Regions from separate parts of the Homo sapiens genome. Here regions 1 and 3 are each linked to region 2. The links come from fine-mapping of genetic effects on gene expression. A gene starts in region 2. Each other region holds a variant in brackets. All regions are shown on one strand. Distances are from middle to middle. Region 1 has its middle 28 kb from the start of TPM1-AS. Region 2 holds the start of TPM1 (tropomyosin 1). Region 3 has its middle 39 kb from the start of TPM1.

Region 1 (10,814 bases), 36 kb before region 2:
CCCGCCTCAGCTTCCCAAGTAGCTGGCACTACAGGTACATGCCACCATGCCTGGTTATTTATTTATTTTTGTAGAGATGAGGTCTCACTACGTTGCCCAGGCTTGTCTTCAACTCCTGGGTTCAGTGATCTTCCTGCCTCGATCTCCCTGTGCTGGGATTATAGATGTGAGTCATCACACCTGGCCTTTTTTCTTTCTTTCTTTTTCTTTTTTTTTTTTTTTAGAGAGTTGCTCTGGGGATCAGAGCAACTGTCACCCAGGCTGGAATGCAGTGGCGAGATCATAGCTCATTGTAGTCTCCAACTCCTGGGCTCAAGTGATCTTTCCACCTCAGGCTCCAAGTAGCTAGGACTACAGGGATGTACAACCACACCTGGCTAATTAAAACAACTTTTTTTTTTTTTTTTTTTTTTTGTAGAGACAGGGTCTTGCTTATGGCCCAGGCTGGTCTTGAACTCCTGGCCTCAAGCACTCCTCCCATGTCGGCCTTCCAAGTATCTGGGATAGCTTTTGTTCTTTAACACAACTATAAGGCGCAGGCTCTTACAGAGGAGGAAACTGACATTCAGAGAGGCTGAGTAAACTGCAATTCAGAAAGGCTGAGTAACTTGCTTCAAATCCCCCAGTTGTTAACTGGGAAGAACTAAGGATTGAACTTGGGTTTTTCTCAGTGTTGCAGATTCACAAAAGTACCTGCAACAAAGCACATGCAGTATAAAAGTGGTCTGCATGTCTTCATACGATCAATGGTGGTGGTGATGCTGATGGCTCTGAGTGTGGGGAAAGGTGGGGTGGTGGCCTTGGGAGAGTCAAGGACACAGACCAGGGGCTTGTGGAGGGCTCACCTCTCTGTGGTGGTGAGCTATAAGACCGACGAGATGTGCAGCTAGCATAAGACATCATCCTTTGCACCAAAGGGATTTGTAACTCAAGATAAAACATCACTAAACTATGAAACAAATGGAAATAAGACTACATACATTCAGATTTTTCCAATAATGACTTTGTCAATGCCTTTTCTTTTTTGAGACAGGGTCTCGCTCTGTTGCCCGCCCAGGTTGGAGTGCAGCGGTGTGATCACGGCTCACCGCAGCCTCGACTTCCTAGGTTCAATTGATCCTAGGCTCATTTCAGCCTCCAAAGTAGCTGGGACCACAGGCGTGTGCCACCACACCCAGCTAATTTTTTATATTTTTTTTGTAGAGATGGGGTTTTGCCATGTTGCCCAGGCTGATGTTAAACTCCTTGGCTCAAGTGATCCTCCTGCCTCGGCCTCCCTAAGTGCTGGGATTACAGGCATGAGCCACTATACTTAGCCAATGCCTTTTTTTGAAATATAAAATAACAAAATTCCGTCGCTGTGTCTCATTCTTTTGGGTGCTATGCTTTTGTCTATGCACGCAGTACAAACCCTCGTAGGATAATCCAGCTCTAATGAGTGGGGAGCTGACCTCCTGATTCCTTTTAATCCCAGATCTGAGGCCAAGGGATGTTTGCTCAGCTAGTGGAGGTGGCAGTGACTCCTCCACCTGGAGCAGCAATGGTGTGCACCATTGTTAGGGAGGCGAGTAGGCTAAAAACTCACGTAGTCACTTCTCTAAGGTTAATTTCTGGAGTGCCCGCTATCCTCATTCCTGGGCTCTCAGTCAAGAATGTAATTGAAGCCCCAGGACAATGGAGTGTGAAAGGAAAGATGTTCCCTGGTGTCAGATGCCCTGGCCAGCCAGAACCAAAAGCATGGAGTAGACGCTTGGCTTTTATTCCTGGTGTTGGCTGGGTCCCTGTGTCCTGCCCTATTCCTGAAATCCTCTTTAGGCAAAAGCCAAAGCTAACTAGGAAGCTCCAGCTTGGGCCTCCTCTGGCATCGCCAGGACCAGCTGTGACAGAACAGCTTGCTTCCTTCTGCCAACCCCCTTGTTTAAAGGTTAAACATACAAAGGCAGGAGCCGCAAGCCCAACAGAGGGTACTGCAAAGCAGCCCCTCAGATGCTAACGATTTCACCAGACGACCAGGATATTATTATTGTCTGAACTCAACTTCTAAGTGCCCTAGGAAACCTTTTAGTGGCTGAGAGTACGATCACCAAGGAGGTGAGCTAGGTTTTCACAGTGTCATTGAGAAGTCCCCAGGAAACCTAACCCCAGTGGCAAACCCCAGTGTGCCCTGGGGAGACACAGGACCTGGGCACCTCTTCTGGATGCCACTGGGCAGGCACTTCCTGGAGAGCTGATGAGGGTCAGTCATTGGGGTCTACTCGAGGCCCCTCCTCCCACACTGGAGAGGGGCTGTTCTTACTGCTCACCAATGCCGGACTTTAGTCCTGACGGGCGGTGAAGTGTGCTTCCATCAGATTTCAGGGGAAGATCCAGCTGGGCTATCAGGCTAACTCGCCACTGGCCCTGACCCATCCCGATGAATCATCCTGGTGAAATGAACATCAGAGGCAGCCTTGAAGGAGAAAATGACAGCACACTAAGGCAGCCTGATAGGTGAGTAGGGAAGAGGTGAGGGGCGGCCTTGTCTTTGAATCCTGGGGAGCGTGACTTCTACGGGCTGATTGCCGGGATCTAAGACTATTTAAAGAACAGGGCAATAGAAGTTGTCTATCACTGAGAGTTTGCTATGCCAGGCACCATACTAAAACTTTTCATGCAGTATCTTAGTTATTCATGCCCTGAACGTTATGATGTTGGGTACTATTATTATTATCCCCATTTTGCAGATGGGGAAATAATTGCAGAGAAGTTGAGCAGCTTACTTTAAGTCACACAACCAGTACATGGCAGAGGTGGCTGTTAAATTCTGGTCTAATTTCGAAGGCTGGGATTGTACATACTATCTAGGCTGCCTCTTTAGCAGGGCAGTTAAGTTTTCTATATGGCTGCTTCCTTCTTCTGTCACTGTTCATCATCCAGTAATTAAGGGTCTTCCCAGAACTGAGGCCCGAGGCAGTGCCTCTAAGCCCACACACCCATCATTCACTTTTATCAACTCAGGTCTAGACAAGGGGTACAAGAAAGAGCCGGGTGGCTGCGGTGAAGGCATGTCTTAAAGCTCAAGTTTGTGTGTTTTTGTTGGGGGAGCAGCACAGATGAGGGAGCGGGAAAGGGATAACGTGTGGAACTAGATTTCTTTTCCTTTCTTCTTTTTTTTTTTTTGAGGTGGAGTTTCGCTCTTGTTGCCCAGGCTGGAGTGCAGTGTCTCGATCTCGGCTCACTGCAACCTCTGCCTCCCAGGTTCAAGCGATTCTCCTGACTCAGCCTCCTGATTAGCTGGGATTACAGGCATGTGCCACCACGCCCGGCTAATTTTGTATTTTTAGTAGAGAAGGGGCTTCTCCATGTTGGTCAGGCCGACAGGCCAACCTCAGGTGATCCACCTGCCTTGGCCTCCCAAAGTGCTGGGATTACAGGCGTGAGCCACTGCACCCGGCCGGAACTAGATTTCTTAAAGGCTTTACCACACCAGTTTGGGAAAAGTTGTTTTGCTTCTCTTTTAAGAACCTGAGGCCTGGAAATCAAAAAAGGGCTCTCCAGGCTGGAGTCCAGGCCGGAGCAGGAATCACCACATAGTTAAGAAACAACTTAACACTATATTTAGGGTATGTCTGTGCTTAAATGAAATAGTTTTTTTTAAGTGTATGTTTTCATTTCTTACATGTCAGAAAATATCTGTATTACAAAAAAATCTCCCATCAGTCCTAGTTGTGAGAACAAAAAATTAGAAAAACCCAGTGATCAAAAAGAGGAGAACAAATTATGGCACATTAACCAGAAGACTAGGTGAAGCAACACAGGAAGATGTTTATGCAAAGTTTTTTGAATAAAAACCAAAATTTTGAATAAAAAGCCTTCCATAAACACACAGGCAAAACATATGGAAAATAAGTTTTTTTTTTTCCCAGTGGTGACCTTTTTTTTCCTTCATAGTTTTTCTCTATTGTTTTTATAATGCTTTGTGACAAATAAAAAATGTACACAATTATATGATGGCATGTACCTCATGTGTACATTTTGCTTATTTCCCTTGCAACCCAGTATCCAAATGTGCCAAATAGCTTTTCATTTGAACTTGCAAATTGCTGCATGAAATTTAAATATTCCTTTAAATACACAACCCACATCAATTGCTGTTATACAAATTGGAATGAACTCTTCAGGTTCAAGTAGTTTTTATCCAAATTTAATTATCCATGTTTATCAGTAATACTTTATGTTTCTGGGGTAGGAACCAAAACAAGGAGAGCAAAAGGGGAGCTCCCAGCCCCCAGCAGTTTACATTAAAACAGCACTGAAACCCAATTCTCTCTCGCCCACTGCCCCACTACTCCTCTTTCTTGGAAGGCTGGAAAATGGGTTATCTGGAGACACCCAGGGCTCCTAGCCCATTAGGATTAGGGAGGCTCTGAACCTGGCTGAGGCTTCTGAAGTCTGGCAGCCTGAGCAGATCAGGTCGCTGTCTGCACTAGCGACTATAGCAATCAGCCTGGGGAGGCTTCTCGTGGGAGAAGTGAATGTTAGCGGCGATCCTCATCCATTTGCTTTACCAGAAACCAAAGGCTCCTTCAGACCTCCCTGGTGGAGTAGGAAGCTGATTTTATAGGCTCTAAGAGTATATGTGTGCATTCATTTATGCTCTTTCCTTTAAAGCTTAACAGATGCTCTAGGATTAAAGCAAAGGTATGGTAAGACCAAAAGTTTAAAAACAAACAAACAAACAAACAAACAAACAGAACACAACTACATGGCCTACAGCAAGGAATGAGAGGTGGGTAAGAGGGGAGGATTTTAAAATGAGAATTTGGTAGAAAAAAGCTACAATTATGAACAAAAAATTTCGTAGCCAGAGTAAGTAGTAAAACCAAAGCATTTTTAAACTAGCAGAGCTCTTGTTTCTAAGATTTGAGAGGCCGGGGTGAGTGGTGATTTGCCTGTGGCTGGAGTACCCCTGAGAAAATTATAGAGCATGCCCAGGAGAGCCTTTTCTACTGGTTTTAG[A/G]TGGTTAGAAATCTACCAGGAAGGGGGCATGACATCTGTTTCCATGCAGTCTTGTATCATTTACTGTCTATTTGCCATGTAATCATATCCTGTTTTATTATTTTTTAGTGCGTTTGTGCACATATTCAGTTGCTTCCATAGACTCCTTGAGGGCAAGACGTCTATTATACTTTGTCTGTATTGTCCTATAACCCCCAACCTTGAAAACAGACCAGGATTTGCCATCATGATGTTTGCTGGCTTCTCAGCCCCCAGCCCCACAGAGCATCTGCCAAGAGGAGCTGACTCTTCTACTCCTCCGGCCCATCTGAGCCCAAAATACAGTCCCCAAAATACTGTAAAACATTCTTAAATGGAAATACAATTTGTCTTGTAGGCAAAATTATGAATCTTAACTTTCATAATTTTAGTTACTAGAAGACAATATGGAAGCTCTGTGTCTGAGAGAAAGTGAGCAGAACAAGAGATTAGAGTAACAAAAAATTGTAGCCAGAAGGGAAGAACGAAAGCCAGAAAAAGGAGGCATGGCGGATAGGAAGTTTTCAAGTAGAGGGTTAACAACTGAAGAGAGATGAACAGTTTGGCCAGGATTTGAGCCTAGCAACTCTTTGTTGAGGCACATTTTCTTGACATTCCTATTCTTAGGCAAATTATTCTGCCTTTGCTCTTTTTAATTTCTCCGGAAGGTGCTAGGCAGACAGTCCCGGAGTGTTCTGGAAAGGAGTGCTTTGTGTGAAGATAGCAGGAAAACAAATCATGGGAATGACAGGCTTCGAGCTGAGTAACCCAGGGGTTAATCACTTCCCGCTGGCTCAGGCTTCTGAGATGCAGGTATGCTTTGGCCATTCCTAGGAAGCCAGCATCCCCTTCAAAAACAAAAGCCCCTACTGCCTGGGTGTGGGTTCCCATTTCTAATATTTACATCACTGGGCTTTGGGCAACTATACTTAATCCTTTTGGGAATAGTGATGGGGCTCACTTCAGATAAAGGCGTCCTTGACCACAGCACGATTCAAGCAGTTCCTTGGCAAGTGTTTCATTGTGAAGGGTGGTTTTCATAGAGGAAGTGGACTTTGGGGTGAGGTGGGGGAGTGGAGGTGCAGGATGTGGGCAGCCCATCGAATCCCAGCTCACCAGAAGGCCGAAGGGCTATATTATACCAGTGCAGGCATCTGGGAGTTTAACACTGGAGTCATGAGTCTAACCAAGAGTCCCACTGGAAAGGCAGCATTCCAAATCCTTTCTGAGTGTCTCTGGAGTTGAAAACAGACCAGGACTTACCATCATGATGTGTGCTGTCCCCTCTGACCCCATCCCCATGCAGCATCCGCCAAGAGGAGCCAACTCTTCTGCTCCTCCGGCCCCCCTGTGCCCAGCCGGCCCCTCCGGAGACACAACAACTGCTTCCCTGCCACAGACAAAGCATCTTTCACCTTCCCGGTCATTAGCTTCCCTCTGGAGACAGTGGATTCCACGGCTCCACAGGATCTGCCTCGTGGCTTCTCTAGAATAAATAAGGGCTGAACTGCCTTCATTTACATCCGATGCCAGGCCTAAGAGCAGTGTTCTGTTGGCTTCCATGAAGCAACAAATCCAAATGCAGTTTGAGAATGGAGTAACAGAAACTTACAACAGAGCCAGCCTTTAGCTTCCATGTGAGATTTGAATCTACTACTTTGAAACATTCTTTGCCTCCTGTGCGCAGGTGATTAACAACTCAAAAACAAACTTCGAAACTGTGACTTGAGCTTTCTTTCCGGGCCACTTGTGGGGTACCATGGCCTTGCAGTGAATATCCTCCCGGGCAGTGGTACTGGGGATTTTCATTTCAAAAGGAAAAAGTTACTTTCAGTTTCCCTAAGGACCTAATGCAGGTGAAAAAAAAAAGGATTGGGGCTAAGGAACAGAAGAGGGACTCTACACACATTGCCCCATTCGGTTCTCAGCCCTGAGGAAGTGAGTGGGCACGTGGAGAGGGGCAGTGAAACCACCTCCTTCAGGGATGGAGAAATCAACGCCCAGATGGCAACATTAACCTGGGCCGGTCTGTGAGCAGGGAGCGGATGCAAAACCAGTGCCTCTGGTTTCCAGGCCCCACGCTGCACTGCCCGCCTTGACGGGGGCTGGATGACTCGGAGCAAACCACTAAATCTTTCTAGGTCTCGTTTTTCTCTGTCCTCGATGATCTTAAGGCTCCTTCCAGTTCTGAATCAGCGTTTTCAGTTTAGGGCAACAGCCTTGGCAGGTCCTGATATGGCCTTGACTCGACCCTTGGTTCTCCATGGCTTTGGTAACAAATGGAAAGAAAACTCTCACAGGCAGCAGAAAGCAGCCTTTTCCTCAGGGTTGATGCCCATTTGTCAAAAATTTGGCAAAAGTTACATTCATATTAGTGAACTCTCAACATAGTTTCATTCATTGTTTGACACACAAAATTTATGACATCTGTTGGAGGAATGTAGCTCTGAAAACCCTCAATGTCAAAAAGTATATATAATGGAAGGAACACTTCTTGTACTGCCCAACATTTCTATTTTCTTTCCAAACCTTTGTCTCCAATTCTGGAAATGATGGCTCCCTGAACGCCCTAGTGCTTTTTGTTTTGATTGGAGAATTCGGATTTTTTTTCTCCCTGTATATATATCTGACTGTAGATTTAAAAAAAAAACCAGCTACAAATAGTGTTGACAAGTTGAAAAAATGGTTCACACACATTCAAATACTTGAGTAAGACAGATATCTATATCTATATCTATATAATTTTTTTTTCCTGGAGAAAAATCAGGCCCAAAGTATTGAACTCTGGAGGACACAAACCAGCATATGCAAAAATTAGATTTTGTTTCTGTTAACGACATCTCTAGGAACAATAAGGAGGGGAATTGTTCTTTTCAATGTCAGTCTCAAAAAGTTCTGAATGTATCCACAAAGCGCTTTTCTTTTTTCTCTTAAGAACTGATTGTAGGCCGGCACAGTGGCTCATGCCTGTAATCCCAGCACTTTGGGAGGCCGAGGTGGGCAGATCACTTGAGGTCAGGAGCTCGAGATCAGCCTGGGCAACATGGTGAAACCTCGTCTCTACTTTTTAGAGTACTTTCTTACTCTATTTTTATACAAAAATTAGCCAGGCGTGGTGGCATGCACCTGTAATCCCAGCTACTCGGGAGGCTGGGGCATGAGAATTGCTTGAACCCAGAAGGTGGAGGTTTCAGTGAGCTGAGATCATGCCACTGCACTCCAGCCTGGGCAACAGAGTGAGACTCTGTCTCAAAAAAAAACCAAAAAAGCAACAACAACAACAACAAAACAAACTGTAGAACTCTCATCATTATTTTTTGAAGATGCTTATGTTTTTACCTGTGTCCTTTCTCTGTGGAGTTCCACAATGTTTTACTCTGAACAGGGCAACTGTTCAGCTGTTCATTCTGAAATCTGGGACTGCTAAGTTTCAGCAATGGAATTTAGAACATGAATCTTGAATTCTCTCTCTACACCTCATGGTTCTCCAAATGGTGACCATCTCAGCTTCCAGCCTTGGCCTTTCCATATTCAAGAGTCCTAATCTCTGTACCTTGACCTCACAGAGTGGCATGTTCAGAGGTTATCACACCCAGTCATACCCCAGGCGTGTACCATGTAGAGACAGAGCCGTTCTCCTTTTTTATATTAATCTGAAAGATTAGGTAATCATTCTTCGAATTGGCATGATGCTTCATAATTAACTGATCTTGTCTGATCCCTGGAACCCAGAGGGGAAGTCAGGTGTTAAACCACTCCCACACGGTCGTGTCAGCTGCTAAATGGTTGACTCCACCTCCATCTTCCCAGCCTCCTCCTCTCCTAATTATACCTGCGGCTTCATCTGTTTTCATCTATTATCTAGAAACTGTTTTTCTTCTGCTGTAAAGCGTTTGAAACAAGGGGAAGGAGATTCCAGACAGGGCTCAGGAGTCACACAGGGCCAGAGTTTGAAGCCCAACCCCACTACTTGGGAGCTACTGAACTGAGTATCTAAGCCTCAGTGACGTGAGGCTTAAGTGAAATAACCCTTGTGAGTACAAGTTCTTTAGCACACATAAATGGGATCCGAAAGTGTTAAAAACCATCATAATTTGGGGTAAGGTTAGTCCCCCCTTAGCTTCACAAGGATGGGTACTATCTTCTGTGGTGGTCTTTGGAGCACAAATGGCAAGTTGAGGACCACAGCAGTTAACTTTTTTTTTGAGATGGAGCCTCACTCTGTCATCCAGGCTGGAGTGCAGTTGTGTGATCTTGGCTTACCGCAACCTCCACCTCCCGGGTTCAAGCGATTCTCCTGCCTCAGCCTCCTGAGTAGCTGGTATTATAAGTGCACACCACCATGCCTGGCTGATTTTTGTAACTTTAGTAAAGACGGGGTTTTGCTGTGTTGGCCACGCTGGTCTCATTCAAACTCCTGACCTCAAGCGATCCACCTGCCTTAGCCTCCCAAAGTGGTGGGATTACAGGCGTGAGCCACCATGCCTGGCCGAGCGGTTAACTTATGGAACAAGACCTAGGCGCCTGGTACTGTGCCGTGTACTTGAAGTGGTTATAGATTAGACTCCCACAGTTATAAACTATGAGCTAGGTGCTAATCTCATCTCCATGTTAAAGATGGAGCAGCTCAGATTTAGGGACTTGACAGGTTAGGCAGTCTCATAAAGGTGGAGTCTGGATCTGAAGCCAGATCTGGCTCCCCGAGTGAAAGAGGACCAGGTTTAGGAAAGGCTTCCATGACTAGAGTGATGCAGAGAGGGTTTTTTCCTAGCTGAGGATTGGCAGAGGTGAGGCGAGGGGTCCTGAAACTGTAGGAAGGTTGAGACCTGTGCATTTATTTGCCGTGAGCAAGGGGACAGCTTTTTGGAAGGAGACCTAAAACCAGGCTCCGGGACCCTGCTTGGATTCTTTGCCTTACAGCCTTTGTCTTTCTGTGGAGAAGAGATTCCTGATTAAGAGACATGGAAGTACAGTTACAGAGATATTTAATACTTTTGAATGAAAATATATCTGCATCCAAATGAGTTTTCATTTGTTTCCATTCTGTTTGCTTTTGGTGAGAACATCCTTTTTTCTCCCTGCAGCACAGCTGAAGCCAGTATTGTCTGTAATCTATTTTTGTTTGCTTAGAGTCTTCAAGAGCTAGGGAAATGACTGATGACATTTTTAGTTTCCAAGTCTGAGAAAATGGAGACGTATTGGAATTGAGAACTCATGAGTTGGGAAGCAGAAAGTCATAAAGACTCGCTAAAGCAGTAGTTTGAGTCAAATCATATCGCTGGGGGACAACAGCAGATTTGGCACATTAACCCATCATTTGTTCTTGTGTGGCTATGCCACTGCTAGAGGCTTAGCTAATATGTCAGGAAGAAAAATCCCCAAACCAGTAAAGCCACTGCCAAAGTCCTACATGTATGTGCAGGCATACACCAATAACATTGAAAACAACATTTGGAAAGGGTCTCTCCTGCTTGGTTATAACTTTAACAGACCAAAATAATGCTGCCTTTAGTGTTTCTGAGAAGGTAACACATGAAACCCAGTTTCCCCTGGACTGTGGGATATTGTTTTGAGAACCTATTTGTGGGGGAAGGCAGGTCAGTCACACGTTCAAAAGTTCACAAATTAAGAACATACAAATGACAGGACCACCAAATTTAGAAAATGTCCTACAATGTGCATTTTATTCCATATCATTATACAATGTTTACATATAGTTAAAACTCTCAAGAAAACGTCCTTTACCAGTTGTATGTGGTGTCTAAATCTTTAACATGAAGGACTGAAAAGAGTGGAAA
Region 2 (10,814 bases):
TTTTCATGCCGATGTCATTATACAAGAGTTTAGGAGAGTTTTCTCATCCTTGTCTGTAGGTTGGAATCACTTGGGTATTTTTTAAATGCTGCCGCCTGGGTTGCATCCCCAGGGATTCTGATTTAACTGGCTTTGGGTGCATCCTAACTTTGGGTTTTAAAAGCTCCCTAAGTGATTATGTTTAGAGAAGGTTGAGAATCCCTAAGTTAAGAAGTAAAGACCTACAAAGGGATAAAGACTCATATGCTATAAATATCAGATATATCACAGTTACTGGGGAAGAGATTGGGGGCCAGAAAAAAATGGAGTCTTCGATCCCCTTCAGCCTCACTTTTGACTTAGGTGGAAAGACAACACAAAATTCGAAACAAGACCATCAGGGATACTACTCCTGAATGACAATCTTCTAAGCTAGGTAGAGCCCACTTCCAGAATAGGATTTGTAAAGTAGTAGAAAAATGTTTTTAGTAATAATAGTAGAAAAATGTAAAAGTGTTTTACACTGGTGAATAATGACAATGAAATGTCCTAATCCCAAAGGTAATACGATTCCACCTCAGGAAGCTGACTTCTCCCTTACCGGACTTCTCCCTTTTTCTAGTGACATCTGTCTCTTCCTCCTCAAGTTTTGACTATTTTTTAGTAAATAAAAAACGAATACTCTCAATATGGTCATGCACTGCATAATGATGTTTTGGTCAATGAGGGGCTGCATATATGAGAGTAGCCTCATAAGATTACAATAGAACTAAAAAATTCCTATCGCCTGGTGATTTGTGTTACAATTGTTGACAGTATTCAGTACAGTAACACACTGTACAAGTTTGTAGCCTAGGTGTTTAGTAGGCTATACCCTCTAGGTTTGTGTAAGTACCATACACTCTATGGTGTTTGCACAATGAATAAATCACCTAACGACACATGTCTCAGACCTTATCCCCCTTCATTAATCAACAAATGACTGTATAGCATTTCTTCACTAACTTCTTCAATATTCCTACGGGCTCCAAACTCCAGACAACCTAAAGTGTCCTAAAAGGGAATGTGATCAATACACTATCAAAAAAGCCATATATGCCAGATTTAGGGGCAGTTTCCCGGTGGGAAAAATAACCAAAACAAGATTCAAGAAGCTCCCTCCCCTGCTGCTTCCCACACCAGCTGACTTTAAATAACTTCTTTCCCATTTCTGCCCCACCCCATTCCAGCGCTCCCTTCAACAAGACTTTTCAATAAAGACATGTTAGCACTACATAGTTACAATAATTATTATCCTATTTTTTTCCCTTAAGAATTGTAGTAACCTTTTTCTCCCTCTTTTGCCTTCAGTCTTACTGGGCTATTTTCAAATTCTCTGCATTCTTTTCCTTATAAGGAATATCTTTCCTTGATCTATTAGCAGCTCTTTTGAAAAAGCTAAATAAACGTCCTGCTGGAGAATTTGCGGGAGGCAGGCATCTTCCATTTAGCCATATATAGAGCAGGCATCTGATCTGCATTATACAAAGTAGGCTCAGAGTCATATATGGTTTTTGGCTCTTTTTCCAAAGCCAGGTAGTTTAGAATTTAAATGTTTTAGCGAAATCAGTGCTTCCCCCCAAATCCCCTTTCCAGGAAGCTTGATTTTCACTGAAAATTTCTTTTTGTCAGATCCTAAATGTCGTCTCTGGAGTTCTCATTTACAAAGCACACCTGGATATACATCTCAAGCCTTTCATGCTACAAAAGACTTCACTAATTTCAAGACCTGAGACCCTTCAGTTATTTGCATGTTACTTTCATATAAAAAAGTCTGCTGTTGCTCTCGGTGTTTCAACTGCTGGCATAGCTTTCCCTGGTGCTCACACATTCTTGGAATTGTTACCAACTTCCCAAGGAATTCTTTTCTAATTGGGCCTCTAGGCTTAATTAGCTTTTAGAATGGAATCCAACGGTGTGAAAAGAAGTTGGTCCTTTGGCTTGACTTTCCGAGGCAGAAGAGGCAAGCTATCAATTAAAAAGCTTCCAAAGGGCAGTGGACAAAGAGCTTAGGAGAGCCTTAGCTGTGTGCATCACCCCTGCAACTATGTGGTGGTTGTCAGAAGGCTGACAGGTGGGGGCGGGGCCAGCAGGAGGGGCAGGGGGCAGCTAGCTCACTATACCATATAAAGCACTGAGCTATATATAACTCACAGCTTACTTTCTGGATCTAGTGCCTTCAGACTGCAGACCCAAGCAAGTATCATCTTCCCAGGCAGATCTTAAGGGGTGGATTAAGGCTTACACTAATGAGAAAGGAAGCCTCAAAGTGTCTCTGTGCCCCACCATGAAGTGCAGCCATCTAAGTAAAGGTACCGCTGTGTCATTTCTTTCATTTAGAGGCCAGGTTCTCTGAACCCTGACTAGACCCACCACCAAACCCAGAACTTCCCACCCACTGGAAACGGCAAAAGGAAAGAAAGTGAAGAAAACCTGGCATTCTCTACACAAACCTTGGTGATGACACCTCAAGGGTTTTCTGCCACCAGGGAGGTGAAGTTCACCTCCAGAGTCCAATTTCAGCTGCTCTATTCTCCCAGCCTCTCATCCACCCACCTCCACCCCCAGGGAGGTAAAGGAAAGGAGAAGAAGAGAGGAGTGGATGAAATATAAATGAATGTGTGCAGTAGCAGTCAGAGGCGGCATCCAATGCTCTGGGCCATGGCAGGGCTGTGTGCAGGTGTCCAGCAGGAAAAGGTAAACTTCCTTCATTGCTCTCCAGCCCTGTGGTGACCCCGGAGTGGCCACGCAGGCAAGAGGTGAGGGAAGCAGTGTGAGCGTGCACTTACATCGGTGGCCTTTTTCTCTGCCAGCTCCAGCTTCTCCTGGGCATCTTTGAGAGCCTCAGAGTATTTGTCCAGTTCATCTTCGGTGCCCTTGAGTTTCTTTTGCAGTGACACCAGCTCATCTTCCAGCTGGGAGTTGGCCAGGGGGTACAGGGAGGGAGGGGGGTGCAGCAGGCAGCGTGATCCCGAAGGGGAGGGGTGTGGGTGCACAGAACCAGAAGGACAGGGACAGCGGGAGAGACAGAGGGAAAGACAGGGAGGGAGAGAGAGAAAGAGAAAGAGTTAGCCATTCGTGCGCCACGCCGTGCCGCGCGCCCCGGGTACCTTGGCGGCGGCCTCTTCGGCGGCCAGGAGGCTGTCCTCCGCCTTGTGCAGCTCCTCCAGCACCCGGTCCCGCTCGTCCTCCGACACCCGCAGCAACTTCTCCTTGGCCGCGATGTCCTCCTCGAGCTGGGGGCAGCGGCGGGCGGGCGCGGGCGGCCGGCACGGACCGGGTGTTAGACACACACAACACACGGGCGTCGGGTTGGCTGGGGCCCCTCGGGCTCGGGGCGCCGCCGAGTTGGAGTGCAAAGGACCCGAGGTAACTTCCTCTTTACCCGAGCTGGAACCGCTCCGCGGCTCACCCCGCACACCCACCTGCCCTGGGACGAGACTCCTGCCGAGGTCTCAGCGGGCTCAAGTCCACTACTTGGGGACACAGAAGAACGCCACTGCTGGCCTGGCTTTCGGGCTGTAGCCTCCATTCCGCCCCATCTTTGTTCTTAGGTAACAACTCCAGGACTCCCTTCTCCTCCCCAAGTTTAAGGTTCCTTTCTCCCCAGTCAAAAGTCAACGAACTTCTAACACTTGAGTTACTCGACCCCCTTTCTCCATCCCTCGCCCTTCCTTCAAACGTCCCCAGGAACCGGGTGTCCTCCTCCCTCCCCCAAACTGATTCCCAGTCCTGAGAATAAAGCGCCTCTAGGACTTGATTTCGCGGGCCATGGGAACCAGAGAAGGGAAATAAGCGTCCTCAGACCAGACTAAGTTAGACTAAGCCTGGCTCTTGCGTTTCCCTTCCTTCTTTCCAGACGCGCGCCCTGGCCGCCCTGGGTGGTGGTGGGGGTAGGGTGGTGGCTCCCCGAGTCCTCGGGGTGGGGATCCAGCCGGGGGTGCCAGGCTCGAGTCCCGGCGCTCTGGGCGCGGGCGCAGGGCCGGGGAGGCGCAGACCTGCTTGCTCCTGTCTTCCGCCGCCTTCTTGTCGGCCTCCGCCTGCTCAGCTCGATCCAAGGCGTTCTCCTTGTCGAGCTTCAGCATCTGCATCTTCTTCTTGATGGCGTCCATGGTGGCGGCGGCGAGGGGCCCTGGGGCTGCAGCAGGAGCGGCGGGGCGAGCGCGCGGTCGGGCGGAGGAGCGGGAGTGCGAGCGCGGAGCCGCCTGCTTCTCCCAGATATGTACTTTCCCAAGGGGGCGACCGCATTCCTCAAGACAGCCAATACTTTTTTGGAAAAGCTTTTTTCTCCTGCCCCCCTTCCTCCTCTCCTCCCTCCGCCCCGTGCCCCCTCCCCGCTCCTCCCGCGGGGGCCGCTCGCCCATTCGCTGCCGGCCGCCGGCCTCCCAGTTGACGGTGGATATGACTATATATGGGGACCCGAGCCGCCGAGGCGGCGGCCGGAGAGGCCGCCCTGTTTCTAAACCTGCGCGCCAGGGAGAGGGCGTTGGGGCCGAGCCGGGGCCGAGGCGCAACCCTCCGCCCTCCGCGTGCCCTTCTCCCAGGGCCGGCACCCAGCCATTAGGGTCCCCAACCGAGCCCGCCCTGAGCTGCCGGAGGCCGGGAGAGCGCGGACCAGGTGGTGGATGCGCGTCGCCCCCCTGTGCCGTCCCCCGGCGCGCTTAGCCAAAGGCCCGGGGGCTTCCCAGCCGTGCTGCACCCCGCGTCAGGGTCAGTGCGCTCTCGGCACCCGCCAGCGCCTCCCCGGCAGCTCTCAGCCAGCCAGGTGTCATCCTGCGCGCTCACGCTCTGGAAACTCAACTGCAGCAGAGAAAGGGAGAACGTGGGAGAAAGCCTGGGGCGGCTCTTGAGACTTTCTCTGCGGGCGCGGGTCAGAGAGGCAGGGGGCGGCACAGCGACAGCACACGGAGTCTTGTTTTCTGCCTGCCCTTTCCCCCAGCGGAGGGACAGTCAAATACTTTAGGGACACAGGACTCAGTGGCGTACTTCTGTGCTTGCTGTGCAGTGCCTCCAAAAAGGTGTGCATGTGTGCGTGTGTGTGCGGGTGGCAGTCTAAGGGGAAAGAACATTGAGTTTAGACTCAGGCAATTTGGTCTGTGGTCTCTACTCTGCCACCAGCAACTGTGAGACCTTGTTTGCTGCCCGCGGCTTCCTCAACTTTAAATCCAGCGGGTAGATAATCCCCGAGGTCCCTCCAGATATAACTTGTTATCATTTTTCTTGCACTGATTTTAGGGAGTCGGCCTTCCATGTTAGATGCTTAGGTGCCAGGTTTCGGAAAACATGGGATCGGCGTTAACCTGGCTAAGTCATTGCATCCGCAGCCGCAACTCTGAGGAGGCTCTGCCGTGTGAGCTGTGCTTGGAAGGAGGAGGATTTCCCCCAACACTTCTTATTTTTAACTACTCCTCCCATCTCCCAAGGGGGAAAGGCTGCTTTTTTTCAGAGCTTCAGTGGGAGGGGAGGAGAGGGGGCTGCCCCCAAGCCCTGAGATCAGCTGAGGCAGGGTTGGTGAGGGTCTTGTTAATAGTCCCCACAGAATAATTCACAGTCTGTACTGCATGGTTACCAAATATTCCCCGGACGGTATCTGAGCAGATTAGGCAGGCCAAACAACTTGTAAGTCCTTCAGAGAATGATCAAATTCCTCTCCAAGATTTTATCGGGTTTCTTCCACTAACCTAACTGCCCAGGAGGGAAAAGATACACTGACCTAATGGTCAGAACATTAGATCTGACCATTAGCATAGGGGCTGCGTGGCACAGAAATTGACCAGAGCCCTTTAATCACGGTGTGTCAACCCAGCCACCGGAACAGTGACAAAGTTCCAGGCATGTGGACGATATCCAGATGCGTGGACTCCAGGGAGCTGACTCCCCAGGTTGGAGCTCAGCAGAGGAGGCAAGAATAGGGAGTTAGGAGTCAGTTCCAGGGATCCAGACCTGGCCTGGTCACTTCCTTGCAGTGTGACCTTAGCCATGTTACAATCTCTCTAAGCCTTTTTTCTCACTTATAAAAAGAGGCAACTGAACTAGAGAAACTCCTTGCGGGACCACATGTTACTGACTTTTCTTTTCTTACTGTGCCATATGTAGCCGAGGGACTCATTAAAGTTTCCTTAAATGAAATCATGCTACAAGCAATTTATTAAACACACGGTTGTTGAGTACCTGCTATATACTAGGCAGGTACTAGGCTCTGGAATCCAAAGAATGAGTAGCACAGGTCTATGTCCTCCAGGTGTTTGGCATGAGAAAGGTGTTAAGAATTCACACGAGGAAGAAATAGAAATGACTAGGTCAGAGCAGATGGGAAAAAATTCTCTGAAAAGGTGATGGCTTTTAAACTGATTTTAAAGGAAGGGTAGCAGTTAGCTAGAGAGGAGGGCCGTTGTATGCGCCAAGGAAAGAAAAAGGAATGTTTGGTGGTGGTTGGACAGTAGGATTTTGGGGGTGAATGGGGGCATGAGACTGGAAAGGAAGCTTGGGGCTGTATGATAAAGGGCCTTGAATTCCAGATTCAGACATTCAGACCTTATTGTGTAGTTTAAAGCCATCGATGTCTCTTCTTTTCACCTCTTCCTCTCCCAGACTCCCTCACCTAGGGCCTATATTCAGAGGTCGAAGCCTATGGTGTCAAAGTATGGAAATGGAGCTATACAACGCTAACTTTTAAAATCCCTTAGTACCACATCATTGATCTCTAGACTGATGGGTTAACATAGCAGGTCCTGAATTCAATCATTTCTTTTAACCCATGTTGAGATTCTGCCATGTGTCAGGCCCAAGTCAGCTTCATGGGCTATACCACCCATGACCTTTTTGTCACCAAGGGCTAAGACAAAGCTAGGACAAGCAAAACGTCATGACTTAAATAACACATTCTTCTGTAGTGAACAGGTCTCCTGGTCCTCTCCAGAGGTAGGCTGGACAGTCACAGGCTGTATGTAGTGTGTATCCCTGTTCTCTGGCTGATTGGCCACAACTCAAGGATGGATCTAAATACTAACCAGGGACTTGGCGTTGTGGCTTGTCAGGCAATGATGAACTGGGCCACTCAGCTTCTTTCATTGCAGTTTGAATTAAGGAACGTGAAAAATGGGAATCACTAGCCGTGGCTGCTGAAACAAAAAGGGATTGCAGTGTCGGGCTGGAAATGCCACGTGTAAAAGTGATTAAGGTTATTCACAATTTTTTAGGTTTTCTCCCCAGTCAATGTCGTGGTAGCATTGTACATCCCACCCAATTAAGTTGGCTGTGGCCATTTGACTTGCTTTGGCCAAGGAAACGTGAGCAGAAATGACTTCTGGTGGATACTTAAAGAGCTCACGACTAACCATGTTCATTTTTCAAGACTGTGGCTGCTCTGTCATTGTGGGTTTTCAAGTGGCTCCCTCTTTCCCCCCAACTAACCCTTGGTGGACATGTAGTGAGAATAAGATATAAATCTTTGTTATTTTAGGCCACTGAGATTGGGGGTTGTTTGTTACTGAAGCATAACTAGCTTCTCCTGACTAATACAGCACAATAGGCATGCATCAGCTAAGTTATGAAAAAGCAGAGAAGTGATTATAGAGAAAGAATGAAGCAGGCATATCAAGATAAACAGAAGCACCATTTAGAGAAAGAGATTGGGAGAATATGACCAAATTTCAGTTCCAGGGGTCCTTATAATAACCCCCTGTATTTCTTGAGGTTACATAAGCGAGTCTATATTCCTTGAAAGTAAAAAGCTTACCAAATCATGGTGGCATGACAGCCTGCACAACATTCAACATTCTTGGCCTAGAGGCTCTACGTGATCACCACGAACATGCTTGGAATTTCCAGATTTCTCCAGTGCCTGGTATTCAGTCATTTCTCAATGAATGTTTGTTGAACAATTTTTTTTATGACTGACAAGTCCAGCTTTCTTACTGACTTACAAGAAAGTCTGGGAAGGTAAAGTAACAAATCTAGGTTCAAAAGATCTTGTTTCCATTCAAAATATGGGCTCTGTGTCTTATTTCATGAAGAATGAATATAAGTATTGTGATAGGGTAAGACAAATGTCTCCAAATATTTATTGGACACCTTTTGTGTGCAAGACATTTAGGGCTTATGGGATCCAGGGAAGCAGACAAAAGACATGGATCTTTTTCTGTAGGAAAAGTGTCTATGTATGATGCAGGGAGAACCCTCTCTTTGGGAGTCATTTAATATGTATTTCCCATGGCATGACCATCAGCTCAGTTGGTCACCTGGGGCCCTCTATAGTTATGAGGATCACATATCTCGGGTTTTCTAGGAAAGCTTTAATATTAAATATGCTGCCTTTTTCCTTCCATAAAACACTTGTATGTGTCATACTACATTTATCAATATTTGGTTACAAAGGAGAGTCAACATGAGCATCATTTCCCAATGTGACACCTTTAACAGGAATGCCCACTTGAATATGTACATCAGGGTTTGTTTGTTTGAAAAAACAAAATGAAAACCTCATTACCTGATAGTCACCCCTTGTTTAACAGCAATAGCCCTGCCGGTGTACTGTGACTCCCCCAGAGTCAACAGTGCTGACTGAAGCAATTAAGGGAAAGTGAAGAATCTATAATTAAATGGAGAGACGACTGCTTCTTCGTCTCTTTTGGAATGCAGCGTTTTATGCTCACGACTCAGTGTCCCTGGAACAAGATACGGCATGCTCTCCTCAAACACTGGGAGTTGTGTTTCCCAAGGGTTTGTGATGCTACCATCAAGGCCTCACAGAAAATATGCTATGCTTCCTGGGGGCGGGGGGTGGGGCTGGTTTGGATCTCTGAGAAAGGTCTTTAGGCCATTTTCAAGGCGTGCCTGCCTTTATTGTTTAGTAACACACAGCTGGTCCTGATTCTTTGGAGAGGCCCTTGAGCACGCTTATTACCTGGAATGTTTGCATGGGCAAAATGATTGTCCCAGTACAAAAAAAAAAAGGCATAGGAGTTTTCCTGCCTTACCTCTTATTGTCTGTCTCTCAACAGTAGCAACTCAGTGTAGATTTAATCAAGCTCCAAGTGTGGCAGATTTAGCTGTCTTAAGAAAGGCGATATTCCTTCATGTTTGTATAGTTTATAAAGCACTTTCAAGTTCATTACCTCCTCCTCCCAACCTCTTATGACAGCATCAGGATGAGTTCTCTGATTTTCACTCTGTACATGAGAAAACCAGGCCGAGCACAGTGGCTCATGCTTGTAATCCCAGCACTTTGGGAGGCCAAAGCAGGAGGATCACTTGAAGCCAGGAGGTCAAAACCAGCCTGGGCAAATTTGTAGAGCTTCCCCCCATCTCTCCAAAAAACTTTAAAAATTAGCGGGGCATGGTAATTCACACCTGCGGTCCCAGCTACTCGGCAGCCTGAGGCAGGAGGATCGCTTGAACCCAGGAGTTTGAGGTTGCAGTGAGTGTGCCACTGTACTCTAGCCTGGGTGACAGAATGAGATCCTGTCTTGAAAAGAAAAAAAACCTAAACCAAAACAAAACCACACACACCAAGGGCAGTAACTGGTTCAAGACCACTCAGCTGGGAGGTGGCAGTGCAGGAACAAAAATGCAGATATCTGAACTCTCAGTAACAATGCCCTTTTCATTCATTCATTCCCAGCCTGTTTTTAGGTTCAGTTTGATTTCATATTTATTTTATGTTATTTTTATTATTATTATTTTTGAGACGGCGTCTTGCTCTGTTGCCTAGGCGGGAGTGCAGTGGCACTATCTCCGCTCACTGCAACCTCCACCTCCCGGGTTCAAGCGATTCTCCTGCCTCAGCCTCCCGAGTAGCTGGGATTACAGGCATGCGCCGCCACACCCAGCTAATTTTTGTATTTTTAGTAGAGATGGGGTTTTACCATGTTGGCCAGGCTGGTCTCGAACTCCTCACCTCAGGTGATCTGCCCACCTGGGCCTCCCAAAGTGCTGGGATTACAGCCGTGAGCCACCGCGCCTGGCCTTATTTCATATTTAAAAGCAATACATTATAAGGGGAAGGGGGGGGTCGCTAAGGTCGTTTCTACACGCAGAACGTGGTTAAAACATGATACTAATGAGGCTAAGATTGAAGGGTTGCCCTGACCTGCATGGGCCAGCTCACAACAGAAGCCTGGGCTCCTAAACCCTCCCACCCACTCTCAGTGATGGGAGAACCTAGTGAGAAAATGTTGTTAAGCCACCAAAATCTTTTTCCACTCTTGTGTTTATGACCAAAGGAGGGATAATAAGGACATCTTGAAGATAGAAAGGTGAGTATGTTAATTTTATTCCCAGTAGCTTTAATGGAGATTTGGGGTAATCAATAGATATCTACACTTGATTCCCTTAAAACCCTTGGGTTTGCAAAGGAATGAGCCACCAGTTAACCCAGGCAGTATGTTTGGGGGGAAAATGAAGAGAAAATTTGGGGCAAAACAGCAACTAGTGCCTCCTTAAGACCCAGCCTGCGCAGAAACGAAAGCGTCTGTACAGACTTCGCAGTCCAGAGCCTTGAAGGCCACGTCGGAGCCTTGGACTGGTTTCAATCATGACTTCCCAGCAAACCCTGCATTCTTTTCCTATTGAATGCCACCTGCTCATTTTTATATTTTTATACTTGCTTCTCAAGTTTCTGCTGATGTCCTTAACAGGAACATATGTGGAGGTGACCTTTGCAACCTCCTGAATGGCAAGTAAAGCCCCACCCTTACTTTGCAGACCATGAAATTCGATGCAAAAAAAAAAAAGCCCATGGAGGCGGATGGCCCAGGTGCCTCTCCTCTACTTGAGGTCTCGCTACAACCCACTCA
Region 3 (10,814 bases), 38 kb after region 2:
AATTTGTCTTTCCATTTCCAAACAACTAAATTATATACAAGTTATTTGATTTTTTAAAGGGGGGCGAAAGGGCATCAACACTTTTAGCTAAGGTGAATAGCTAATCCAGTTTTATAAAGTTATTTTTAAAAATAAATCTTGCCAATTTCATAGCAAGTTTATGGCATGATGCAAGTTTATCCTGCAGACTTTATGGTCTATGGAATCAGAGAGATTTGGTTGAAATCCTGGCCCACTGATTGCCACAACTGGGCAACCTGTTTCTTCTTTTAACTCAGTTTCCTCATCTCTAAAATGGGCTGGTGATAATTGTACCTACTTTATAGGATTATCGAGACAATTAAATGACACAAACCAGATCCAATCATGAGAGGATGGGATAACTGTCGTTTGCCCCTCTGACCTTGTAGTGGGGGACAGGGGTGAGTCCAGCACCTTCTCTTCTGGGCACTGTTCGCAGGCTGCGTCCCTTGACCCCATCTCAGCTCCTGTCACACTGCCCTCTCCACATACCTGTCTTTGTCTCCCACCTTTTATCCTTCAGCCCAGGAGGTAATGGCTGGCACTATCCACCCTGGGCTACCGCATGCGCCTATGGGGTTTCCCCACACTACCCACACCTTTGTAAATAGTTCCTTTATTCAACTCTCCTCAAATTACCTGATATGACTATTCAACTTGCTCCCTGACTGATATATACTTAGTATACTATATATACTTAGATACATACTATTACTATATGTACTTAGATATATACTATTACTAAGTATATGTCAGTCAGGGAGCAAGTTAAACACTCAGGTAATTTGAGGAGAGTTGAATAAAGGAACTGATATACACTAAGTATATCAGTTAGGGATATATGAGCATGTGATACATCAAACTGGTATACTGAGCATCTACTATGGGCCAAGTATTATACTAAGTATATAAGGGCCTGACTGATATACTTAGCATAATACTCGGCCCATAGTACATGCTCAATAAATGGAACTATTATTAATATGTAGAAGAGAAAACTCCATGCCTTTTTAAAGGAATGTCTGGGCATATTTATTGAACAACATTCATTGACTCAACAGATATTGAGTTCAAAGTCCCATTGAGTCAATATCAAAATCGTATGTTATTTATTAGGTTTTTTCCCATTTATTATGCAGCACCTTCATGTGGCATGAGCAACATGGAGATGAACCTCTTGCTATTGGTTTCAGCGGGGGAGGGAGCTCACTGGGGTTTCCTCTGTCATGACAGCTGACAAGCAAACTCATCAGTCACCTGTTGCCCGACTAATCAGTTAGAGCTCTTACCTAGAACTGAGCAGTCAGTCACGATCAGGAAAAGTGAATTCTACTCACCGGGTTCTCTCTGGGGAGGACACAGGCGCAGAGGGGTGAGCGGCCCTGTCAAAATCGGCCTTTTGTCTGGCTCTAATCTAGATGTGAAGTCCTATTCGATGTCACAGACTTGGAGGATTCTGTAAAGTGGGAGAAGAGCCCCGAATGAGGGCCGAGAAACTGGGTTCTAGCCCCTGTTTGGCTGATAGCTTTCTGTGGGTCGACGGCGACTGTCGTCTTTAGGACTTGCTTTCTTTCTCTGTGAATTGAGATGGTTGGTCTGTTAATTGCCTGTGGCCGCTGTAACAAATTACTACAAACTGAGTGGCTTAGAACGACAGGAACTTATTCTCTCCCGGTTCTGGAGGCCGGAAGTCAGACATCAAGGTGTCAGCAGGGCCATGCTCTCCACAGCTTCTAGGGAAGAATCTTTCCTTGCCTTTTATGGGTTCCAGTGGCTCGTGGCATTCCCTGGCTTATAATAGCATAACTCCAATGTCTGCTTCCATCTTCCTGTGGCCTTCCTCCCTCTGTGTGTCTCCATGAGTTCACTCCTCTTCTTATAAGGACACCAGCCATCGGACTTAGGGCCCACTCAAATTTGGTGGGATCTCATCTCAGTCCTTAACTAATTACGTTTGCAAAGAGTCTATTTCTGAATTAGGTTACATTCTGAGGTTCAGGGTGGACATGAGTTTGGGGGGACACTATGCAACCCAGTACAGTTGGATTCTGGGTTCTCGATAGTTCTTACCAGTCGCACTGGCTCTTGGAAGTTGATGGGTATGTGGCATTCCCTAGTCGGGCCTCTCTCTTTGCTGGACTACTTTGAAAGAGATTGGGTAGGGCAACATTACACTACCCCACACTATATCATGCCCCCTCTCTTTTCCCTCCCTCAGTGTTACCACTCGACATTACTACAGCTCTCCCCTCCCCTCCCCCTGACTCCTACTACTGGGATCTGTGGGAGCCTGTCTGTGTGCTAGGCACTGAATCCTTTCTCTTCCAGTGGTGCTATGAAATAAGTATTATTACCATCCCCACCAAAGGTGATGAAACTGAGGCTCACACAGCTGCAGAGTGGCAGAACCAGGACGTGAGCACAGGTCTAGCTGAGCCAAAGCTCAAGCTCTTGCCACATGCCTGGACGTTTGAACAACAGAGAAACAGGCCTGGCTTTTCTTCGACCATACTTGACTTTCAAGGCAAAATTGTGAAACTGGAAAAAGTAGTTTACACAATTTCCCTCTGAATTGCCTGTTCTTGTCTTTGCCTTTCTCCCATGCCCTAATCCCCCATGGCGGAGTCTAATACCCTAAGGCATGCTCTGGCCTCTCTGCTCCCTTAGACACCTCATTCTCACTAAGGCAACAATGCCTGATAATAGCATAGAACGCTGCCCTCACCTCACCCTCAACCCTGAAGGGCTGTGCATTAGCATGTGGCTGTGCGTGTATGTGTGTGTGTGTGTGTGTGTGTGTATGTGTGTGTGTGTGTGCATGTAAGCCAGTGTTTTTCACTCAGTTTTCCTTGCCTTGCCCTGTTCTTTCTAAGGGCAGGACTGTGCTTTGCCTGACAGACCAGGGCAGTTTCCTGCTCTATGTTTACAGCTTTTATCATAGTAGCGTACAGTTTGAACTCAACACACCTACAAAAAAAACCCTTAAACCCACACTTTAGCCAAGGCCTGATAATATTTAAAGAAACACGGATTTTGAGTGTTTCATAGTTTTTCTAATATATACTAAAAGTTTATTTATGCTCTGTTCTCACTCATAAGTGGGAGTTGAACAATGAGAACACACAGGCACAGGGAGAGAAACATCACACCCCAGGGCCTGTCAGTGGGTGGGGAGTAAGGGGAGGGAGAGTATTAGGACAAATACCTAATGCATGCAGGGCTTAAAACCTAGATGACGGGTTGATGGGTGCAGCAGACCCCCATGGCACATGTATACCTATGTAACAAACCTGCACGTTTTGCACATGTATCCCAGAACTTAAAGTAAAAAAAAAAAGTTTACTCGTGCTCTAATATCTCCTATACTACAGTGGCATGGGAGGGACCCACATTTTGGGAAGTGATGGCTTAATGTTCTGCCATCTACTTGAGACATTTTCTAAGGATGTTGAGTTTATTTATTTATTTATTTATTTGGTGAGAGTGGATATCTTTGAAGATCATGAGCAAATGTTTAGGGGTATATACATTGATATAACTCTTTAGGAAATTAGGTCGGTGATACATATTAGGGGCCTTATAACAGGTAACCTTATACTTATTATTCCGGGGAATAATTCCTGAGATAATAACCCTCAAAGCAGGCTGGGTGCGATGGCTCATGCCTGTAATCCCAGCACTTCAGGAGGCCGAGGCAGGTGGATCATTTGAGCCCAGGAGTTTGAGACTAGCCTGTGCAACATGATGAAACCCCGTCTCTACTAAAAATACAAAATATTAGCCAAGTGTGGTGGCAAGCACCTGTAGTCCTAGCTACTGGGGAGGTTGAGGTGGAAGGATCACCTGAGCCCAAGAGGTCAAGACTGCAGTGAGCCATGATAGTGCCACCGCACTCCAGTCTGGATGACAGAGTGAGACCCTGTCTCAAAAAAACCCCCAAACAAACAAATAAAACCAACCAACCAACCAACCAACAAGGAACTCAAAGTAGAAAAGGCTTGATTTGTTTCATAATGCCATTTACAATAGCAAATGTTTTGGCAGCAATCTGAGATTCCAATGATTGGGAGGTGGTTGCATAAATCATGGCGTATCCTTTCTTAGAGAATAACATGCAACTATTAAAATGATGCTCACTCTATAAAATTAGGTGAGAGAAGCAGGACACATAAATGAATATCAAACATCTAAGTTGATCATTATTATATAAAATGAAATATGCATAAAGGAGAGACTTGCAAGAGATATTGCTAAATGTTAGCCAAAGGTTGTTCGTAGATCATTTTCCCCCTGTAATTTCTACGTCTTTATTATCTCCAAGTTTTAAATAGTAAATTTCAGGGTGGAGGAATTAAACCATTGACAAGGTTATTCATGTATCTTTATGTTCATTTTCTGGACAGGGATATTGTGATGATGGCCCTGATTCATTTAGTTGGAGCCAAAGTTTCCAAAAAAGAAGTTGATGCTCTTGTTATTGATGTGTGTGTGTGTGTTTAGTGGGGTGTGATGTGAGGTGAGTGCCTCCTGAGGAACACTGAAGATTGACAGGGGGTCTCTAGGAAAGGGAGACCCAAATACAGTCCCCCAGGGTCCCATGCACAACCTGCTCATCACTGCCCTGGCAGTACTTGAAGACACATTGTCCTCTAAAAGAAACACCCAGCCTGACATCTCAGATTACTGCCCAGAGCCAGGGAAAGAGAGTGAAGAGATTCCCCAGGGGTGGGGTGCCTCCTCCTGGATGTCTTCAGGACAGTTCATTTGGCCATGGAGGTTTTGGAAGGCCCTAGCTGGAGCCCTGAGGTAGGCACTGAGTTGGGCCCTGCCGGAGCTAGGAAACAAGCCTGGAACAGAACAGCCTAGCAGCAGAGTAGCTGTTGACTGAGTGCCTATAATGCATGTGCATACGGTGAGCTAGTCCTTGAATTTTTCTAATTTAACACTCATAATCATCCTAGGAGAAAGGGTTCCAGCCCCCATTTTGTGGATAAGGAAACAGACCCAGAGAGGTTAAGTCACCTGTGCAGTCACACAGCGGGGATTCACACTCAGGTTCAGCTGACTCCAACACTCCCACACTTTCAGTGACGCTGCCATGAATCTCCATGGAAGGGAACTAACACTATTGGCCCCCTCCCCTGCTTGACCAGTTCTGTCAAGCACTGGGTAATTGGGGATGTAGTAATAAATCAAGCCATACTTCCCGGGGGATACAAATCACATTGCTGCTTCCACTTTTTAAAGTCAATTTCATCTTAGGCTTCTTGGGACTGCCACCAATGCCTAGCCACAGAGAGGGCCAGGGTCCATGGAAAGTGCTGAGATGCTGATGTGTACACATGTGCTCTATTGCGTCCTCATGGACCGTGCTCTACTTCATCCAACAGTCATGCTGATTACCTTCATATTAATGGGACAATGTATGGTTGGGCACCCCCCTTCCTCCCTGCTTCCTTCTCACTCATCGGCTTTCAGCCTGGAGCACATACCTGTGGTTAAATTATTAAACCTTACAACAGGATAGAAATGATGACAGCTGTAATCCCTACACACACACACACACACACACACACACACACACACACAC[T/ACT]TTCACGCCACTAACAATTTGCTGAAAATGCTGACTTAATAGTATTAACCTAATGGCTGGGTTGAAATAATGATAATAATGATAATGATGATAGTAATAGTAAAAGAATTGCTCTCAAATCATTCTGACAGGTATTGCAGCTTCAGTTGCCACGCTCATTCCCTGAGAAAGAATTTGCATTTTAAGATTCAGTTCGTTTCAGGCAAACGGCTCCCCAGGAAGATAAATGAGCCTTTAATGAGGTTTTTCCTTGCCCAGAGTGAAATCTTACTCCTTTCTGCAAAAGCAGGTGAACACCAATTTCCAGACAGGATTCAGGCCAAACCTCTACATTTCCAGACTTCCAGGGGGCAGACTGGAAAATGACATCTATTAAAAATCCTGCGCTCATGCCTGTAATCCCAGCACTTTGGGAGGCCAAGGTGGGTGGATCGCCTGAGGTCAGGAGTTCAAGACCAGCCTGGCCAACATGGTGAAACCCCGTCTGTACTAAAAAATCCAAAAATTAGCCAGGCATGGTGGTGGGGGCCCGTAGTTCCAACTACTTGGGAGGCCGAGGCAGGAGAAGTGCTTGAATGCGGTAGGCAGAGGTTGCAGTGAGCCGAGATCGTACCATTGCACTCCAGCCTGGGTGACAGAGTGAGACTCTGTCTCAAAAATAAATAAATAAATAAATAAATAAATAAATAAATAAATAAATAAATCTTGGGCTCTGATTTAAAGTGGTCCCCAGTGGGGTGTCATTGCACTGTGGCGGTGTTTTGGATGGGGGCATGATGTGGCAGGAATGTGGCTTTCTGGCTCTCTCTGGCCCAGCAATGGTGGGAGCTTTTTTGGAACACCCCTAAAAACCAGGGTAAGTATCTTCCCTCTAGCCATAGCAGGCAGACCACGGTTTGAAATGCTCCAGCCAGTTAAAGAAGTAGCATTGGGGTGCAGACCCCAAAGGTGTCTCCACAAAGACTTGCTGAATGCCTACCGTATGTGGTTCTACACAGATGAAGATGACTAGGATATAGCTTGAACCCAGGAGGTGGAGGTTGCGGTGAGCCAAGCCCACGCCATTGCTCTCCAGCCTGGGCAACAAGAGAAAAACTCCGTTTCAAAAAAAAAAAAAATGCTATTTGAGAGATAGTCTTGTTCAGCCCTTCTAAAACTCTTCTGTTCACTTGCCCTAGTTTTAAGGGTTCCCATCTGGTATCTTAGTCTTGGGATGTCCCTGTGCTGTGGAGTTGTCTGTGGGACAGTAACCATATTTATGTTACTCTTTACTATTTTGCTATATAATATTCTATTGTTATTAAGTTATAGTTTATAATTTCCATGATTATTCTTCCTTTTACCCATTAATTATTTAGAGGGGCATTCAGAAATTTTCTTAACACATGGGTTGTGTGGAAATGTTTTGGTTACTGACGTTATAATTTTATTGCACTGAGGTTTGTGAATATGATCTGTATAATATCAATTCTTTGATGCCTTTTGGTATTTTCTTTGTGGCCTAGGGTACATGGTTAGTTCTTGTAAGTATGTACTTGAATAGCTGTTTATTCTTTATTTTTGAGGTGCAAGTTTTCATAAATAACTGTGGTTCGACTCTGCTGTATCCTTCACAATTTTTTGGTCTGATTCAATGCTTTCTGAGAGAAGTGATTAAAATCTACCACTTTGATTATTCATTGTCAATAATATCTTTTTGTCGGTTTTTGCTTTATATATTTCGAAGTTGTGTTGTAAGGTTACACAGGTTCAGGTTAACTATATTTTTTTTTTTGGTGAATTGTTCTTTATCAAGACCTTTTTATTGCCAAGTTTTTGTCTTAAGGCTTATTTTGTTTCAAATTAATATTGTCAAGATCAACTTCTTTTAGTTAGTATTACCTGGAATATTTTTTCTTAATCTTTTGGTTTTGATCCTTTCCTGTTTTTGGTTTTAAATGTGTCTTTTAGAATAGCTTTTAGCTGGATTGCAGTGCCTAGACCACTGCCTAGTATGCATAGTAGGTGCTTAATAATTATTTGTTGAATGAATGAATGAAAAAATTAAATCTAATCTGAAAATTTATCCTTTAACAGATGAGTTTAATCTGTTATAATTCTTGTGATTATTGATATTTGACCGACTTCTACCACTTTTTGTTTTCTAAATACATGTTTTATATTTCCTTCTCTTTTTATTTTCCTGCTTTATTGACTTCTACTGGATTAGTCGAATAGGTTTTATTTCATTTCCCCTTCTACTATATTGAAAGTGATTCCTTTTCTGTTGTTGAGAAGTGATTGAGTTCTCAATCACTTCCTATCTCTGTGCTACCAAGAAGAAAATAGAGAAAAGAAATAATAACAGCTATTTATTGTATATCTTGGTCAACATTTGGAATAAAGGACATTTGCTAACTATGCCCTTTGATCAGCACAATAACCCTGTAAATTCAATGTTAGAATGCCCATTTTACAGATAAGAACTTCGAGATTCAGATAGTTTAAGTGACCTGTCCAAGGCCCTACAGCCAGTGACCAGCAGATCTGGGGATGAAACTTGTTCTCTGTGATTTCACAGTATGCGTTTCCTGCTGCCAGCCACACTGCTGATGCAAAGGCCAACCCCAGATTGCTGTAGGACAGTTATCACAGTATTTCTTAGTTCCCACAGCCATATTCTGGTCACCAGACCTTGTTATCTCCGTGTCCTTGTGATAATTCAGAAATGGAAATGAATGAACACAGGCCTGGGGTACAAGTTCTGGGCACAAGAGAGCCATGAGCTGAGAAGTAAACAGAACCCTTAAAGCCCTCCAAAATTAAATTGGTCATAATCTGAATGAATTCTGTCAACTCTTTTTAATAACATCTCCAAATCAGCCACTTACTGTGTTGGGAATGCATTCTCTTCTCCCATTTGATACTTAGCTGGAGCCCGTTAATAAGCAGACAAAAAGAACTGTAATTCTTGCTACTATCTCTGCAAATTGATTTTCAGCTATTTGTTCTTTCTTCAAACAGCTTCCAATCTGCTTTGATTGTCTCCCTCTGGAAAGGGTCTGACGGCCCAGATTAGAGAGGGGGAGGAACATAGGGCCACATGGTCACTGGCTATAGGAGAGCAAGGACAGAAGCTTCTGAAGCTGTATTAATATTCAGTGTCAGTCGCAGGATGGATGGGAGAGGGAACAAGCTTCGGGAGCCTTTGATGAGGTCACCCACAGAGGAGGCAGGTGCTATGAATAAGATTACCCACAATCCCACAAGCTCCCGATGAATTCCCATTGCAGTAAACAATGTCCAGTGGAATGGTAATCCTGGGGTTGGATGTCCTGCTGATTTTGCAGGGGTACAGGTGCATCTTTGTCTGAAAGGGCGGTGTTCCTTTCTAGGATGAGAGTATGAAAGAATGTGACCAAATTTCTGAAATTCCATTCAGGGACTGCAGCCATGCCCAGTAACTGCACCCGCAAGCGTGTCTGCGAGGCGTGCAGCCCGGGCTGGCCAGAGGGCCTCACTGGGCCCTGTTCAGGATTTCATCTCTAGTGGAGGCACATGCGTCAACTCGCCCTTGAGAGGCACTTTTCAAAGTGGGTACCATCTGAATCCAAGCCAGTTGGTGGGGGTACAGGGTTGGTTGTGCCTGTTAAAATGTGGATCTGGGGCCCCACCCTAGACTTACTGAGTCAGAATCTAATAGGAGGATGCCAGGAATCTACATTTCCAATAAGTGGCTGGGGTGATTTTGGTACCAAGTCTAACTTGTTCTTCAGGGACTCTCTGCAGGTGCCGGCAGCCTCCTGTTGGGTGGCTGGGCTGGTGCGAGGGGGCACATACTGTTAGAGTAGATGAATAGTTAGACATAAACAAAAAAGAGAGCCCCTGGGGAGGAAGTTTTGGAAAATGTTATGTTCCAGAGACTACTTAAAACATGTATGTTAAATATAAACAGAGAGGAGGGAAAATGCCAATGCAGAAAAAGTGCCCCCAAACGCTCCTTAAGACGTCTTGTAATTTTGTAGTTAACCTGTCAAAATGTAGCTAGCTATGTATTAATAGAAAGGTAAAAAGGGCAAAGAAAATATTCCTAAGAAATCCACAGGCACAGTAAGTACAGTTGTAACCCCCCTGTGACCCTTCTGTGGTGGCGGTACATGAGCAAGGCCACCATTAGGTAAGGTTCGTATTGATTACCTGGCCCTGCACAAGTGTATCAATGACAGTGAGGGAAATTCCACAAACCTAGGTGAAAACTAGGAGGGAGCAAAAGTGGAGACTTAAAACAAAAGCAGAAAACTAAACAAAGAAAAAGGTGGAGTGTTAAGATGGAGGCAGGAGCTTAAAGAAACAGTCTGGCATAATAAAAACTGCAATACAAAAGTATCAGGGCTGCTCCCAGCCGGAAGAGCCCAGTCCTCTCTTGGAGTTTACTCTTATTTCCTTTTGCTTACTTTACTAATTGGTCTCTTAGCCAAATTCTTTCCTCCAGAAGGACTAAAAACCGAAGACTCCACACTTCCCAGTAACAATAGGAAGTGACAGAAGGGCCCTGGATGAGGAATCCTGACCCCAGCTTTCTCCTTAGCTTGCTCTGTGACTTTGAGCACGTCATGTTGTCACCGTGGGCCTCATTTTCTGGTCTGTTAAGTAAGTGCCACCCAGAGCTTCTTAGTAGAGGAACAGGACCAGAATTAATGGCCCAACTCTCTGTTTTGGACATAAGAGTCTGAGGTGGGAGTAGAACTTCTGACTGGAGGTAATAATTACAGCTCGTTTTCATCGCATGCTTACTGTGTGCCAGGCACTGCTGTAGAGATTTAGGCATGAGTATTTTTCTTTCATCACAGCCCCATGAGGTTGCACTTTCATATTATCAGTTTACAGATAAAGAACATGAGGCGAAGAATAGTTAAGGTCATAGCTAGTAAGAGGTGGAACAGGATTCCAAACGCAGACACTCAGACACCAGAACTTTCGCTGTTACAATAAAGATCTACTATATCTCTCCATCGTAAATGTCCTGCTGGCAATTGGAAATACCTGAAACAGCTAAGAGGCTTGCTCATCAGGCAGATGTGGCAGTCATCAAAATAGAGGTGACAGGTGGAAAGCCAGAGAGATATTTAAAGAGTGTGGAGTTGCAGCACCAGTAAATACCTGTTGACTTAACCAGCCCAGGGTAACAGCCCTTTGAACTTCTGTATGGTTGTAAAAATGTGAC

Evidence for each region. PIP is the estimated chance that this variant, and not a neighbour inherited with it, causes the effect. A credible set is the group of variants that fine-mapping cannot tell apart.
Region 1: its variant is the best candidate, but not a certain one, in a credible set for the expression of TPM1 in whole blood (INTERVAL, PIP 0.73).
Region 3: its variant is the best candidate, but not a certain one, in a credible set for the expression of TPM1 in whole blood (INTERVAL, PIP 0.58).

Annotation. Positions count from the first base shown.
Region 1 is chr15:63,071,774-63,082,587 of GRCh38, reverse strand. It overlaps a transcript of TPM1 not described here. Among named protein-coding and RNA genes, the nearest start is that of TPM1-AS, 28 kb to the right of the region's middle. RefSeq lists enhancers at 2,485-3,160, 3,161-3,838. The variant A/G (reference allele first, on the strand shown) is at 4,999.
Region 2 is chr15:63,036,146-63,046,959 of GRCh38, reverse strand. TPM1 (tropomyosin 1) reads right to left here and starts at 4,213. Exons shown (of 10, transcript NM_001018005.2): 1 at 4,017-4,213; 2 at 2,808-2,933. The coding sequence starts at 4,130. It overlaps TPM1-AS (TPM1 antisense RNA), which reads left to right. Exons shown (of 2, transcript NR_147233.2): 2 at 1-926. RefSeq lists enhancers at 2,528-3,441, 4,355-5,269.
Region 3 is chr15:62,998,338-63,009,151 of GRCh38, reverse strand. No RefSeq gene overlaps it. Among named protein-coding and RNA genes, the nearest start is that of TPM1, 39 kb to the left of the region's middle. The variant T/ACT (reference allele first, on the strand shown) is at 5,612.